Regions from separate parts of the Homo sapiens genome. Here region 1 is linked to region 2. Evidence: fine-mapped expression QTL. A gene starts in region 2. The other region holds a variant in brackets. All regions are shown on one strand. Distances are from middle to middle. Region 1 overlaps TATDN1 (TatD DNase domain containing 1). Region 2 holds the start of TYW2 (tRNA wybutosine-synthesizing protein 2).

Region 1 (3,031 bases), 52 kb after region 2:
TCTCAAGACAATCCACATCAGAAACAGCTGGAGAACAACAAGCACAGAGGAGTACAGGCGTCAGGCACAGGCCTGAGCATGGAGACTGGGGCAGCCCACTAAACAGTGAGATCCTCTAACCCATCCTGCTCCAAAATACTGTCAGGGACATTTACAAACCCCTTCCCTCCACTGTTCCCCACTTTTCCAGCAGAGAACACAGGATCCCTTTCTGGAGAAACTGAACCAACCCAGAAAAAGATCTCTACAAACTGACATTTGGGAATCCCTAGCAAAAAGTCAGTTGGCCATCTGAGCCTGCCAGTTGCTGGAATGCCTTCTAGAGAGCTTCCAAATGGCTTTTTTTTTTCTTTTTTTAAATAGACAGTGAAGGACTGCCTGACATTTGAAGAAAGTTTCCATCATCACAGAGACCAAAGGAAAGAAGAAAAGGTGACTGTGAGGAAACAAATGCAGGAAGACAAGCAGAAAGTAACTTTAAACTATAATTCATGTCTTTAGAGAGATGAGAAGACACTGCAGTATAAAAATAGAGTATTCAGAAATTGAAAACAAAAGTTGAAGTAAATTTCATAAAAAGGGTTACAAAATATAGCACTTTTTTTGGAAGGAGGGAAACAATGGAAATAGAATAAAAAGAATACGAGTTATCAGTCTAGTATGCCCAAGAAAAGAACAGAAGAGAAAAATCAAATTCCAAGGACGGGTAAAGATGTGCCCCCCACTGGAAGGGCTAATGAAAAAGCAACACCAGGCGTGATGAAAACCATCAACACACACCTTCGTGAAATTTCACATCAGAGATGAAAAACTAAAACCTTTCACAAGAGAAGAAAACTAGGTCACAGGTAAAGGATTAGGAATCAGAGTAGCAACTTTTCATCAACACTGGAACCTACTGATGGGACAGTATAAATTCTCAATGAAAATGATTTCTGATCTTGAATTTTATTCAAGAGAACTATCCATTGAAAGTGGGGGGCTGGGTGTGGTGGCTCACACCTGTAATCCCAGCACTTTGGGAGGCCGAGACGGGCAGATCACGAGGTCAGGAGGTCGAGACCATCCCGGCTAACACAGTGAATCCCTGTCTCTACTAAAAATACAAAAACAAAAAAAATAGCCAGGTGTAGTGGCGGGCACCTGTAATCCCAGCTACTCGGGAAGCTGAGGCAGGAGAATGGCGTGAACCCGGGAGGCGGAGCCTGCAGTGAGCCAAGATCGCGCCACTGCACTCCAGCCTGGGCGACTGAGTGAGAGTCCCTCTCAAAAAAAAAAAAAAAAAAGTGGGGTTCTCTCCCCTTTCATTAACTATCCAGGCTAACTTGTAAGAGGAAGAGCAGAAAAAAAATTCATTTTCAAAATGGGAAGATGTATTTCAAACTTGACTTCAGAATCGTGTAGTTGCTCATCACTAAATGGGAAACCTTATTAAATAGAAATACTGGCTTGTATTTAAAAGAAACTTAATTCCCATGAAAACATCCTCAGAGGATGTTATAGAATGTGTTCCACTAAAACAAACACGCAAGGAATACATGGGATCTAAAAATAGGAACTAGTCCAAATTGAAACACATGGAAGGGTCTGCAACTGAC[G/GGAAC]GAACTATTAGATTATCTACATAGGTTTGCTCATGTGGTATACTGTGCTTAACATTTCTTTTCTTGTACTACTTTTTGTTTTCCTGGATTAACCTCCCTCATATTTTTATTTACTTGGCTTTCTTAAACTTGAAGCCCAGCCTGGGCACATAGCAAGACCCTGTCTCAACTAAAAATTTAAAAAATAGCCAGGTGTGGTGGCATGCACCAGTAATACCAGCTACTCAGGAGGCTGAGGTGGGAGGGTTGCTTGAGCCTGGGAGGTCAAGGCTGCAGAGTTGTGATCACGCCACTGCATTCCAGCTTGGGCTACAGAGCAAGCAAGTCCCTATCTTTAAAAAGAAACCAAAAAACAAAAAACTTGAAACCCTCTCATACTTGGCATAGCACTGTGAAATTATATATTTATATAGGCATAATAAGGAAACAACATTTATATAGACATAATAATGAAAACATTGAGTATGCATATAACCAAAAATTCTGAAATAACGACATTGAGAGTGATATGCAGAGAATGGAGGTAGGGGATTAGTACGGGATATAAGAACTAATGTGCTCATATACCCCAATGAGAATAGACAAAGGGGATGAATCAAGAGACAATAGTATATGGATATTATTTAGAAATATGGTGACAAATAGCAAAATTATTGCTGCTACAAAAGCTGACTTGGGGTAAGGTCATGCTGGGGGGACTCTGATATTTGTTCATATCTGTTAGTACTACTTGACTTTTTAATCTCTATGCATATATTCCCTTGCATATTAATTAATTTTAAAGTTAATTAAACCATTAATTTAAATATGAAAGCATCTTAGACATTTAAACTCTGAACTCTAGAGCAAATACATAATTCCATGATTCTATTTCCCTAGATTTTAGTCAAAAATAATGCAATTGGAAACATAATAATTTTAAGGGTATGAGACAATGAAGAAGGACAGAAACTCCTATACTATTTTGCAACTGATTTAATAGGCTACACTGACATCCTGTGAAAAGTCACTGGTAGAAGCTCTTACATATGTGACAAAACCAACCCAGAGACCTAGCTGTGCTAGCTGACTGTACTGAGTGTGTGAAGTTTAGTGTGGTACAACAGCAGAAAGATCACAGAGTGAGAAGCCAGAGGACATGGGTTCTCATACTTGGAGAAACTCTATACCTGTTTCCTAATTTCTTTGAGCCTCGGTTTCTTTGACTGCAGAGATGTATGACTGTCACAGAATAAACCGTTCGTCCATAGTCAGATATGACGTGTATATGTATACATAATGCTGTGAACACATGTTTTCAAGGGATCAAATGACCTGAGAATAAATTGGATTACCAGAGAAAGCCAGCTGCAGATCTCAACACAAAATTGTTTTCCATTATTAGAACATAATGTAGTAGTCTATAACTTTCGAGCTTTAACTTTTAATAGTAA
Region 2 (2,500 bases):
AGTCTTATTATGGAGAGTACTTAACTTTCTGGGAATGTAACCCAGCAGGTTTTGCTTTATTCAGCCTTTATTCAAGATGGAGTCACTCTGGTTTGGACTCCTCTGACAGCGGGAGTGAAGTAGAAGTGATAGGGTTTCTTTACAGTTCTTATATCCAACTATTTGATTTAGTCTATATGGAATTCCCCTTTGTCTTCTTTAGGAATATCAAAGCATTTCAACAGGTATTTAGTACCTGTGAGCTAGCCAACTTGTTACTTTGTATCTTTTTAAGTATCTACTCTTTACTAGTTATTGTCTAAGACACTATAATGTCTCTACTCACTATAGCAATCTTCTGAAGATTAGATTCCATTTTATAAGTGAAGATTCCAATTTTGAGGGGTGATACGATTTACTGGAACTCAGATCCTTCTGACTTTCAAATAGTTGTTTCTTGGACCAAAGGACAATGAAACAGTGATGACTATATCTGCATGAAAAGGGAAAAAGGGAGCTGTATCTGACTCTTCACTTTCAGAAAATAAGGTGGCTGCTGATGCTAACCTGAGAGCAGCATTAGGCTATGGGAAAGCTTTCTCCAAATTCAGATCATCATTTTGTTACAGGAAAGGGGTCCCAATGCAGACTACAACATGGGGTTCTTGGATCTCATGCAAGAAAGAATTCAGGGCAAGTCCGCAGTGCAAAGTGAAAGCAAGTTTATTAAGAAAGTAAAGGAATAAAAGAATGGCTATTCCATAGACAGAGCAGCCATGAGGGCTGCTGGTTGCCCATTTTTATGGTTATTTCCAGATGATATGCTAAACGAGGGGTGGATTATTCATGCCTCCCCTTTTTAGACCATATAGGGTAACTTCCTGACGTTGCCATGGCATTTGTAAACTGTCATGGCGCTGGTGGGAGTGTAGCAGTGAGCACCACCAGAGGTCACTCTCGTGGCCATTTTAGTTTTGGTGGATTTTGGCCGCTCCTTCACTGCAACCTGTTTTATCAGCAAGGTCTTTTTGACCTGTATTTTATGCTGACTTCCTATCTCATCTGGCGACTTAGAGTGCCTTAACCGTCTAGGAATGCAGCCCAGTAGGTTTCAGCCTCATTTTACCCAGCTCCTATTTAAGATGGAGTTGCTCTGGTTCATGCGCCTCTGACAATTTCATGTTAATTTTTCTCTTTGAATTCATGAGCAGCACTGAAGAGAGTGCATGAGGTTTCTGGAAAATAGCAATTTGAAGTCTTTTAGTCCATAAGATTCCCTGTTATAAATGTCTTCCTAGGCTGAAAAAAAAGTAATGGTTGACCATAAAAAAGATGGCGGCCGCAGCTTCTCCACAGCAACGGCAACGCCATTCTCAAGCAAGCGCATCAATATATTTAGTTCCGGCCTCTTTGCACGTCATTTCCGGCACCGGCATGGCCGGGTGAGCTGCAGGCTACCTTATTTAAGACCGGGAATTTAGTCAGCCTGGTGAGCCGACTCTGAGGAGATGGAGTATCGCTGAGGTGATGAGAGAGAATGTGGTTGTTAGCAACATGGAGAGAGAAAGTGGGAAGCCCGTGGCTGTTGTCGCAGTTGTGACTGAGCCTTGGTTTACCCAGCGATACAGAGAATATCTCCAGAGGCAGAAACTCTTTGATACACAGCACCGTGTGGAAAAGATGCCGGATGGCTCGGTGGCGCTACCGGTGCTGGGAGAGACGCTTCCAGAGCAGCACCTGCAGGAGCTGAGGAATCGTGTTGCCCCAGGCAGTCCCTGTATGCTCACGCAGCTCCCGGATCCTGTTCCTTCGAAGAGGGCCCAGGGTTGTTCACCTGCCCAAAAATTGTGTCTTGAGGTGAGTCGCTGGGTGGAGGGTCGGGGAGTCAAGTGGTCAGCCGAGTTGGAGGCTGATTTGCCCCGATCATGGCAACGGCATGGTAATCTCTTGTTGCTGAGTGAAGACTGTTTCCAAGCCAAGCAGTGGAAAAATCTGGGACCGGAACTCTGGGAGACCGTTGCCTTGGCACTTGGCGTCCAGCGTTTGGCAAAACGAGGGCGGGTATCACCGGATGGTACTCGAACTCCAGCAGTGACACTGCTGCTGGGTGACCATGGCTGGGTAGAGCATGTGGATAATGGTATCCGTTATAAGTTTGACGTGACCCAGTGTATGTTCTCCTTTGGAAACATCACTGAGAAGCTTCGAGTGGCATCGTTGTCCTGTGCTGGAGAAGTGCTGGTGGATCTCTATGCAGGGATTGGTTATTTTACATTGCCTTTCCTAGTTCATGCTGGTGCTGCCTTCGTCCATGCTTGTGAGTGGAATCCCCATGCTGTAGTTGCTCTGAGAAATAACCTTGAGATCAATGGAGTAGCAGATCGGTGCCAAATACACTTTGGAGATAACAGAAAACTGAAGCTCTCAAATATTGCAGATAGGGTGATCCTGGGGCTGATTCCCAGCTCTGAAGAAGGCTGGCCCATTGCCTGCCAAGTGTTAAGGCAGGATGCTGGAGGCA

What was found. PIP is the estimated chance that this variant, and not a neighbour inherited with it, causes the effect.
Region 1: its variant is the best candidate, but not a certain one, in a credible set for the expression of TYW2 in whole blood (INTERVAL, PIP 0.86).

Annotation. Positions count from the first base shown.
Region 1 is chr8:124,501,073-124,504,103 of GRCh38, forward strand. The region is part of intron 9 of TATDN1 (TatD DNase domain containing 1); the gene reads right to left. Among named protein-coding and RNA genes, the nearest start is that of MIR6844, 6.0 kb to the right of the region's middle. The variant G/GGAAC (reference allele first, on the strand shown) is at 1,599.
Region 2 is chr8:124,449,422-124,451,921 of GRCh38, forward strand. TYW2 (tRNA wybutosine-synthesizing protein 2) reads left to right here and starts at 1,399. Exons shown (of 1, transcript NM_017956.4): 1 at 1,399-2,500. The coding sequence starts at 1,507.